3 linked regions of the Homo sapiens genome follow. The protein of the gene in region 1 interacts with the protein of each later gene in a pairwise test. Each region holds a gene or a part of one and is shown on either strand. Other genes may lie near its edges.

Evidence for each region.
Region 2: the proteins of TLR4 (region 1) and RNF216 interact in a two-hybrid assay, tested with the Homo sapiens proteins (one study listed by BioGRID).
Region 3: the proteins of TLR4 (region 1) and NOX4 interact in binary tests that used the Homo sapiens proteins (3 or more experiments, as listed by UniProt).

The regions. Positions count from the first base shown.
Region 1 is NC_000009.12:117,717,847-117,721,505, forward strand, and holds part of TLR4 (toll-like receptor 4 isoform A precursor), read left to right. Parts: 3' UTR 1-3,659.
Region 2 is NC_000007.14:5,771,646-5,775,304, forward strand, and holds part of RNF216 (E3 ubiquitin-protein ligase RNF216), read right to left. Parts: intron 1-3,659.
Region 3 is NC_000011.10:89,484,735-89,488,393, forward strand, and holds part of NOX4 (NADPH oxidase 4), read right to left. Parts: intron 1-3,659. UniProt on the Homo sapiens protein: NADPH oxidase that catalyzes predominantly the reduction of oxygen to H2O2. Can also catalyze to a smaller extent, the reduction of oxygen to superoxide. May function as an oxygen sensor regulating the KCNK3/TASK-1 potassium channel and HIF1A activity.

The sequences.
Region 1 (3,659 bases):
AGAAATGGCAGGTGAGGTGGACAAGCAGGGAAAGAAATTATATGCATAGAACAGAAGGAGAAGAAAGAGTAAAGTCAGGCCTCAGCCAGCCTCTTTTTAGCTCTTTAAATCCTCTGGATTTAAGAGGGATAAAGGGTGGAATAAGGATAAATTAATGCCAATTGTAATGCCTTAAATTTGTGTGATACCTTACAACTTGAAACATATTCACAAAACTATATATTTGAATATCTCATTAGCTGAGTAAGGTAGCAAATCATAATTAACTTTTTCCATTTTATTGATGGGAAAGCTGAAGTTCAATGAAGTAAATTTTTCAATAGCCCACAGAGTAGGAAAGTGACAAAACCTGAGCCTGGGCCTCCAGGTCACTCAAGGACACTTTCTTTCTTCCACACCCAATTGCTTCATGCTTAAAGTTGGCAAAACAGGAAGTGAAACTCCTGCAGTTTTCTGTGTGGTTGACACTAGCAAGGGTTTCTCAGTTGAAGCCATGAATCATTAAGCCAATACATATGCATATATGTTATACATACCAAATGATTTATTTATAACCCTATCTTTCCATAAAGGACTTGAAGGAGCTTCAAACAAAGGATATGTGAACAATAGGGTTAATCAATAATAAGTAGAAAATCTGGACATAGAATAAAAAGAGGAGAGAAAGACACCGAGAATGAGCGTTAATACAGTGCTTTCCATTTTTCTGGTGTTTTGAGTAGCGTGGCTTTTGGAGAAAGCCAAAACTCAAATTCACTCCTTATCAACTGTGTGCCTTGGGCTCCATTTCTCTGAGAGTCTACTTAGCTCCAATGTAAAATAAGAATAGAACTATGACTTTGTAAGGTTGCTCTAAGGATTGAAAATCATGTATTATGTTCAATACGGGGACACTGTCCTTATGGGTGAGTACTCCCCTAAGACTTTATTAAGAGGGCACTAGGAGAAGCACTGGGAGGTCTTCTCAGTAACAACACTAAAGTAATTGCTATTTTTCCAGCCTGTGGAACCACAGAAGTGACTGTAACTAAAATTAGACATTTCTTTCTGATTCATTCTCTACTCACGGGATTGTCAGACCCCAGTCTTCTTCTGGACTCTATAAACTTTTTAGAAATCATCAGCAGGCTCCTGGAGAAGCTTAAATGAACTCACACAATATGTGACAGTGAACTCCCTGGGAGAGTGAAAACCAAAGTCTAAGCCAGTGTCTCCATTTACTTGTGTGATTGTGGGCAAGTCATTCAAGTGCTTTGAGGCTCAGGTCTTAATTCATGAAATGGAGGTAATAATACCTTGTTGGCAGACCTCACTTGGTTAAAATGATAATGTTGATAGTTACAATAGTTACATTTAATTGATCAATTGTTTTATGCAAGGGCTTTATTTGTGCTATCTCAGTTTGTCACATCAATGAATTAGAAAGATACGAAAGTATTTCCAATTTACAAATGAGGAGTCTGAGTCTGGGAGTCATTCTGTCATGTGTCCACTGTCACCTGCTCATTGGTGGCAGCACTGAGATTAGGATCTAAGTCCACTTCACCGCAGAAGCAGGGCTTCTAAATACTGTTCTATGGCAAGAGCACCCTGCTCTCACAAAATGCATAAAACTTCCTATCTCACCATTATAATTTTGACTGATATTAAACAAAGAGAAGTATTATTATTATTACTTGTTTTTATTTATATTACAGCTGTAAGAGCCAGGAAAAATGTGATCTAAGTTATGTGATCAAAGATTTTTTAACAGTGAACAAATCAGGCCCACTAGATGATGGCCTTTCTTTGAACAACATGCCTAGGGTTGCTCTATCATGTCTACAGTTGGTCTGACTTCCTGACGGGCATCACAGACTTGTGATTAAACACAGAGGTTATGGGGGAAGTTCCAAAAGCTTAGGACTTTCCAGATGGTTGGAATAAGATCACACACTCTGGCTGCCCTTATGGAGATCACCGAACTTTTCAACTCAAAGTAAAATCTGTGGAGTAAATGGTCGATCAAAAGGAACCAACTATATTGAGCACCATGCGTGATCATCTGATCGTTACTGCTACCTTGTGAGTTAAAGGCTACTCTTCTCATTTTAGAAATGAGAAAAGAGATGCCCAGAGAGGACGAGTAACTTGCCTTAGGTCACACAGCTTATATTAATCACAATAACATTTGCCGCACCTTCTGTATTTTTTTTAAGTTGCTAAGCTTTTGGTGCATGTCTGGCACCGTTTTAGTTGTATATTATTTCATTTAATTGTTAAAATGACCTTCTGATGCAGGTATTTGTAGCTTTGCCATTCCACAGATGAAGAAACAGATGAAAGGACTGAATTGTTCAATAGGAAGGAGCAGAATCAGGATATGAACTTGGGTTGGCCTGATTCTTGGGGCTGCATTCTTTCCATAACATAATTGCTTGCTGTGATGTCCTGGGCTACTCTGCCAGGGGTGGTTAGTGGAGTGAATGGAGAATAATTTAGACAAGGTCAGTAACTCCCATGCCATCTAGAAATTAAAAGTTTAAAAGGCAGAGTCTGCAACTCTCCTTGATTTCTACAGAAATAAAGATGATCCCTCCTGTGACAGTGCTAAGTGACAATTCTGAGTGTAAATGCGCTTTTTGGCACAAATTGTCCTGTCCTAATAGTCTTGATTATAATTATAAAATAATGGGTTTCTGAAAGGCTGCAAGCAGTTCTGGGAATGGCAATAAAGGTTTAGAAATGACGTGATGTTTATGAGAGAAGTGTTTTGTTGAAAATTAAACTCACGTTTAGGAGAAAGGATTGTGTTGTATGCTCCTAGGAAACTATCTCACTATGTAATTAAATCAAAACCAGCCAGTTACCAATTTGAGCTCTTGACTCATACTAACAACACCCCATTTCCCATGGGCCAAGCAAGGCAGGACTGACCTGAAATAACCCAGCCTGACTCTATCCACAGCCACCCCAGGACCTTGCCCCTCCGTCTTCCTAGGGCTCGGCCGTGAGATGCTAGTGCATGACCCTTCCTCTTCCTGGGACTGTCCTTGTCTTTCCCTTTGGACTCTGGGAGGTCTGTTCTCCTCCTCAGAAAGGAATAAACACTCTTTCTATTTGTGGGATTCCCTAGGAGACACTATATAAAAATATAGAGTTAAAAAAACTATTTAAAAAAAAGACAACTTCATGTCTCTACTCTGACTTCATTCTTTTTAAGATGGGTAACAAAGACTCTCTTCAAGGTTAGAAAATTTTATTTTAATTTTTATAGATTTAGAGAGTGCAAATGCAGTTTTGTTACATGAATATATTGCATAATGGTTTAGTCTGGGCTGTTAGCGTAACCATCAACTGAACAGTGTACTTTGTACCTATTAGGTACTTTCTCATCCCTTAACCCCTTCCCACCTTTCTGAGTCCTCAATGTCTGTTATTTCATTCTCCATGTCCATGTCTACAAATTATTTAGTTTCCACTCATAAGTGAGAGCATGGATGGAACTGGAGAAGAGTATTTTCTATCCCAAGATCGGTTCCTTGATCTTGTGTCTCCAAATCACTTGCTCTCTCTCTTACATCTTTTCTATCTTCTTCTAGCCTCTTTTTGCAAACTTCATTTTGACAAAGAATTCCAGGCAGTCTACAGCTGATTTTATTTCAATACAACGATTAAAA
Region 2 (3,659 bases), on another chromosome or scaffold:
AAATTTAGCCAGGCGCAGTAGCGGGCACCTAGTCCCAGCTACTCAGGAGGCTGAGGTGGGAAGATCTCTTGAGCTCGAGAGGTGGAGGTTGCAGTAGGCTGTGATCCCGCCACTGCATTCCAGCCTGGGCAATGGGAGTGAAACCCTGTCCCCCCACCAAAAAACATCTGCCCAAAGGAAAAATGGGGCAAACAATTTGAATTAACAACGGCTGAGTACCCCGAGGAAACGCAAAAGGCCAATAAATAAATGAAAAAGTGTCCAACATTATGAGACATCAGAGAAATGTAAACTAAAACCACAAGGGGCCGGGCGTGGTGGCTCACGCCTGTAATCCCAGCACTTTGGAAGGCCGAGGCGGGTGGATCACCTGAGCTCAGGAGTTCGAGACCAGCCTGACCAACATGGAGAAACCCTGTCTCTACTAAAAATACAAAATTAGCTGGGCATGGTGGCCCATGCCTGTAATCCCAGCTACTCAGGACGCTGAGGCAGGAGAATCGTTTGAACCCGGGAGGTGGAGGTTGCGGTGAGCCGAGATCAAGCCATTGCACTCCAGCCTGGGCAACAAGAGTGAAACTCCGTCCCAATAAAATAAAGTAAAATAAAATAAAACCACAAGGAAATTCTGGGAAGACAGTAGTAGTAACAGCAGAATAGTCTTTGAATCTCCTCAAATTCTTACATAGTAACAGAAAAAATTCCATGGACAACAGTTACAAAAAAACTAGACAAGAAAGAATCTCCACAAACACCAAATTACTATAAACACAAGATTTAAATGTGCTTCTTGCTGTGTCACCCAGGCTGGAGTGCAGTGGTGCGATCTCGGCTTACTGCAACTTCCATCTCCCAGGTTTAAGCGATTCAATCCTTTCCTTCCTCTCTGAGAAAATCTCAATTTTCTTTGCCTTCCTGGGAGAAACCACTGTGCCTCAGAGGCAGTAAGCCCCAGATCGGGGCTTCTCATTAAATGTCTACAAAGAGTTAATAGTCAAATAATATCAGCATTTTCTCAACTTATAGAATGTGAAGTTATAGATACTATCAAAATATACAGATATCAAAACCAGGTTAGCAAAGTTTTACAACAGAAATTTCTAGCATTGATAACTGAAAAAAGATATTCCTTTTTTTTTTTTTTTTTTTGAGACAGAGTTTCGCTCTTGTCATCCAGGCTAGAGTGCAATGGCACGATCTCGGCTCACTGCAACCCTCTGCATCCCGGGTTCAAGCAATTCTCCTGCCTCACCCTCCCGAGTAGCTGGGATTACAGGCATGCGCCACCATGTCTGGCTAATTTTTGTATTTTTTAGTAGACACAGGGTTTCACCATGTTGGCCAGGCTAGTCTCGAACTACTGACCTCTGGTGATCCACACGCCTCAGCCTCCCACAGTGGTGGGATTACAGGCATGAGCCACCATGCCTGGCCCCAGGTATTCCCACTTTTAAAACTGACATATATCAGCGTAAGTTTGGGTCTCTCATTTGAAATAATGATATTGATGTTATTAATAAGTAGCATGGTATTTAAAAGAACAGCTCTGGTATCAAATTTGAACTGCATCTAATCAAGTCCTTTTTTTTCCCCAAATAAGATTTTTTTTTTTTTTGAGACAGAGTCTCCCACTGTCACCTGGGCTGGAGTGCAGTGGTGCAATCTCAGCTCACTGCAACCTCCACCTCCTGGGTTCAAGCGATTCTTCTGCCTCAACCTCCAGAATAGCTGGGATTAAGGGTGCCCGCCACCAAACAAGCTAGTTTTTTGTATTTTTAGTAGAGACAATGTTTCACCATGTTGGCCAGGCTGGTTTCAAACTCCTGACCTCGTGATTTCCCCGCCTTGGTCTCCCAAAGTGCTGAGATTACAGGAGTGAGCCACCACACCCAGCCAGATTTTTAAAAAGTATTTTGAACACTATTTTCAAGCCAAATTTTGAGACGGAATCTTGCTTTGTCACCCAGGCTGGAGTGCAGTGGCACGATCTCAGCTCACTGCAACCTCCGTCTCCCAGGTTCAAGCGATTCTCCTGCCTCAGCCTCCCTGAGTAGCTGGGACGACACATGCGTGCCACCATGCTGGTTAATTTTTGTATTTTTAGTAGAGAAGTGGTTTTGTCATGTTGGCCAGGCTGATCTTGAACTCCTGACTTCAGTGATCTGCCTGCCTCAGCCTCCCAAAGTCCTGGGATAACAGGCGAGTCACCGTGCCTGGCCCCAAGCCAAATTTCTTATTTTTTCTTTGACCACAACTGGCTTCCTTCAATTTTACACTGAAAATCAAAGGGAGATGTGAGTCATTTTTACAGCTAATTTAGTTGAAATGTCAGGCTTGTAGTTAAGCAGACTGCTAGTAACGGTTCAAAAAATTCCTCATGAGTGGCACACCAGTGGCCCCAACCTGTGAGAAGAAAAGAATTCTGATGATGGAATTTCTACTCTTAACTAAATGTAAGTCTCTGTATCAGGTCATTTAACTCTCTGACACTCAAGTCTTTTAATCTGGGCTTCGGATAATACTGCCTATGTTTAAATCTTGGTTTCCCATTTAGTCAATCGGTGGCTCCAGATAAATTGTTCAATCTCCTAGGCCAATTTCCTCATTTGTAAAATGAGAATACAGTTGTTTTAAAATTAGTTGCGGGTAGGTAGAGTGGCATGTGCCCAAGTCCCAGCTTTACTGTGGTTGCTGAAGCAAGAGAATCCTTTGAGCCCAGGAGTTCAATGCTGCAAGTAAGCTATGATAGCACCATTGCACTCCAGCATAGGCGGCAGAGGGAGAACCTACCTCCAAAAAAATTCATTAATTTTAAAAAATAAAAACTTTTTAAAAACTAAATCAGTTGAATTACATGAAGTTTTAGCACAGTGCCTGATATATACTAAGTGTGACATTGTGCTATTTTTATTAACTGTTACCTGCGAAACAGAAAAATCAAAATAGCTATTCTTACATTACAAGGCTATGTTGAAAAATGAGAAGCCACTTTGTATATGGTAAATACCATCAAAATAGCTGCATTGTAATCACAAGTACACAGGAAATGCAGTGCTTATTAATAAAATACAGTTCAAGGGGGGAAAAAATCTTTATTTTCCCATTCCAAGTTACTTTTTTTTTTTTTATTGAGACGAAGTTTTGCTCTTGTTGCCCAGGCTGGAGTGCAATGGTGCAATCTCAGTTCACTGCAACATCCCCTCCAGAGTTCAAGTGATTCTCCTGTCTCAGCCTCCCAAGTTACAGGCATGTTGCCACCATGCCCAGCTAATTTTATATTTTTAGTAGAGATGAGGTTTCGCCATCTTAGGTTGGTCTTGAAATGCCGACCTCAGGTGATCCACCCCCCCGACACTCACCAAAGTGGTGAGATTACAGTCGTAAGTCACTGTGCCTGGCCTCTTTTCTTACTTATAGTTGTATTTCCAATGCCTAGCACAGTTGTTGAACGAGTGGCTCCAAAAACTTCTTCCTCTGTCAAAGACTGGAGCTGTTATTCACCATGGCCATAGAACCAGAGTCAGGAAACATGGCCTAGGCAACAACAATTAGGATTTTCTTCAGTTATCAAGTATTGCCCATTACAGAAAATATGGGAAACAAAGGAAGTCAGGAAGAAAAGAGAATCGCTCACGGTTCTCTCACCCAATTTTCTGGTT
Region 3 (3,659 bases), on another chromosome or scaffold:
ATTTCATCAAAGAAATATAACCCATTTCACCCATCAATAAACAAGAAAATTGTGTCTAAATAACAGAATGTTAAGAATAAAAACAAATAAGCAAAATAACACTCATCTAAAAATGTCCCCTGAATTGTTATCATAACATGTGCCTGAGCAACTCTAGCTAGTGATTTTACAGTCTGTATAATTAGGATTTAATGACCAAATCTCTTCTGAAAGTAACAGGGATCATATATTCATTCTCAGCAGAATTAAAGCTGCCCAGGCCAGCTGTGAAACTAACATTGACTTAAAATCCTAGATCCATTTGTCCAGAGACTCCAGTCTCTGACCTTAAGAAATTCACATGACATCAGATTTCTGTCTCTGTAAAATGTTATGATATAACTTCTAGGACTCTTGAGAGGGTAAATTAGTTAATGTTTCTAATGGATAATGATTGACTAAAGAAAGATAATCCCAGTGTTTCACTAGAAAGAATCTGAATGCTCAAGAGCATAGATATTTCAATAAAAGTTTAAAAAAAGCTTCAAGATCATGCAGCAGATCTAAAACAATATTTGTGAATAAAAGCAAAATAAAAATTAAAATCTTATCCTGACACCATGTGAATAACTAGTTTGAAATTGAATAGTTTGGAGGGAAAAATATAATATATATAACTAAGACACATTGAATATATATATATAACTAAGACACATTGAATCTGATATCATAAAATCATTCTCTTTTCAAGTTAAAATGTTTATGGGAATTACATGATATTCTTTAATTATTAAAATGTAAAAAACGCAACTCAAAACAGGTAAACATGAATTCAAGAGCTCCTATAAATGGTGTTTTGAGTTAAACTGCTCCAATATTTCCAAAAAAAGAAAAGAAAACTACATTTCTGAGAGTTGAACACAACCTGTTACTAATTTCTATAAAGTTCAGGCAACTACATTTTCCATTCTTGAAAATAAATAAATGAAAATGGATTTAATCTTAAGCAATCAATGAAGTGACTTATTTAAAAGGTTGCCATGGGGGAGTGGAGCAGGCTATTGTTTGGTTTGTTGGTTTGCTTGTTTCGGTGTTCATTTTGGCTTCTCTCAATAGATTTTTTTTTCCTCTTAGCTAATTTTAAGATTCCAAAACTCATGACATGTCACAATTAAACATCTCCTAGGAAGTGCACAGTCTGATTAGCACATTAACTCAGGCATAAACCAGCCATGACCACGTTGCCTCCACTCTGGATCAGACCAGTCTGGGGAAGGATAATCATGATGAGAACCCCCAATAAAACATATTAATCCCAATGTTATATTTTATCTTCTAGCAATTAAGATCTTATTTTTTCTATCAATTCGTATGTATTTTTTTTACTCTTTAATTTTATTACGAGAATAATAACCCAGAAATAAAAGTGGATACTCTAGTTCTGAGAAGTAAATACTTTCACCTTCATTCTCAAAGATTCCCACCTTCAGAAAACTCAGAAGATGAGACAGAAGTCAGGGAGATTTTTATAGTTCTATACCAATTTTATTTATTTATTTAAATAAATAAATAAATAAATTTATTTATTTAAATATTTATTTATTTATTTAGCTGTGTCACCCAGGCTGGAATGCAGTGGCCCAATCATAGCTCACTGCTGCCTCCAAACTCCTGGGCTCAAGCAATCCTCCTGCCTCAGCCTTCCAAGTAGCTGCAATTACATGCATGTGCCACCACGCCCAGCTAATATATGTGTGTGTGTGTGTGTGTGTGTTTGTGTGCATATATACACATATATACACATACATATATATGTGTATATATACATATATGTGTGTATATATGTGTATATATACATATATATGTGTGTATATATGTGTATATATACATATATATGTGTGTATATATGTGTATATATACATATATATGTGTGTATATATGTGTATATATACATATATATGTGTGTATATATGTGTATATATACATATATGTGTGTATATATGTGTATATATATGTATATTTTTTTTATTTTTGTAAAGATGGGGTCTCACTTTGTTGCTCTGGCTAGTCTCAAACTCCTGGCTTCAAGCAATGCTCCCACCTTGGCCTCCCAAACCAATAATTTTTGTAGTTCCACAACTTCCCATCCTTTGACAATTCCTGCTTAGTAGAGGAGGAGCAAGAGGACTACCCATGTCCTGATGTCTCTTTTACAGCCTGGTTAGTTGGCCACATATTATTAAATAAATGTCACTGGTTTCTTTTTCCTTTTTTTAATGTGCTACTAGAAAACTTTAAATTATATATATGACTTGCTTTATGTTTCTGTTGGGCAGCACTGGTAAAAATTAATACTAACCAGTAGTATAAGTATCTGACATGGACCAGTGAAGTCGTTTAGAAAAGCTACGTAGTATGATGAAAAAGCAGAGGTCAGACAGGGCTGTATTCAAATCCTAGCTCTGACACTGACCATTAAAAGGTATTTCAGCGAGTCATACAGCTTCCTCAGCCCATATTTCCTTGTATGTAAAACAGAGAGAACAGTTTCCCAGCTTAAACAAAACATTTGTAAAATTCCTGGCATATCACAGGTATAAGTAAACATTTGAATAAAAAGTCATTCTTCAATAGAAAATAGAGATTTTCAAGCAATTACTAAGAATTAACTGTTTCTCATTGTCTGTGTCTTCCAATAAATGGACCATATTCTGTGGGTCCTTCCTGTACTAGTACAACTTTGTTATTACCTTACATTTCACAGACGAATGACAGCAACTTTATACTCAAAGCTATTATCAAAATGTTCAGCCATGAAAGTATTGTTTCTATTTGCATTTTAAATGGTACAATGAAATACATTTCCAGAAATAACATCATGATTTTTACAAACCTAAAATCCACCTAAAAGAGACTTATAATATACCTTGACTCTCTTCAGGAATCCCACATGCGTATACCAGTGGGACCAAGTGTTTGCTAAGTTCTAAGATGCATCACTCTAAGATGCTAAGTTAATAACATATAGTTCTTAAAAATGTAAAACATCAGAACCAGCAATATTTATTTAAAAATTAATTCTATCTCTTTGTTATACTGCATTTCTTTGCAATTTGAAAAGTGCCTGCAAATTGTTACTCTATGAAATAATGCAACACTTATTATAAGATTAGAAAAGATAAGCCTAGGACATAAAATTAAACACTACTTCATAGATAGTAAAACTGTAGAAGGAGTTTCTTTTCCAATAAAAGGTAATATACAGACTGAAAATACCTATTCCAAAATAGCTTAGATAAATTAATGACTGGAAAATTCATAACAGATAATTACTGAGAAGTTTATAAGTCATATTTTATCTCTCAGCATGTAGAAAGACCATTCCTGTCCACAGTGACTCTTGGTAAAATGGAGAATACTTACCAGATAGCTCAAATATCAACTCACTATAATTATACTTGTGTGTTCTTAAAAACTAATTTATAACAACCTCTCCTTTCTTGAATCTGTTTCTTATCCTTTATGCTCCTAGTCTTCCATTTGGTCCTTTTATCATTTTTTTTCTTCATTCCCTTGATCAATATTTATTGAGCCCTATGTGTCAGCAGTCCTTGAAGCTCATTACCCTGTCTGTTATTCAAGCAGAAGCAGTGAAGTGGGATGGAAGTAGAGAGGTGAAA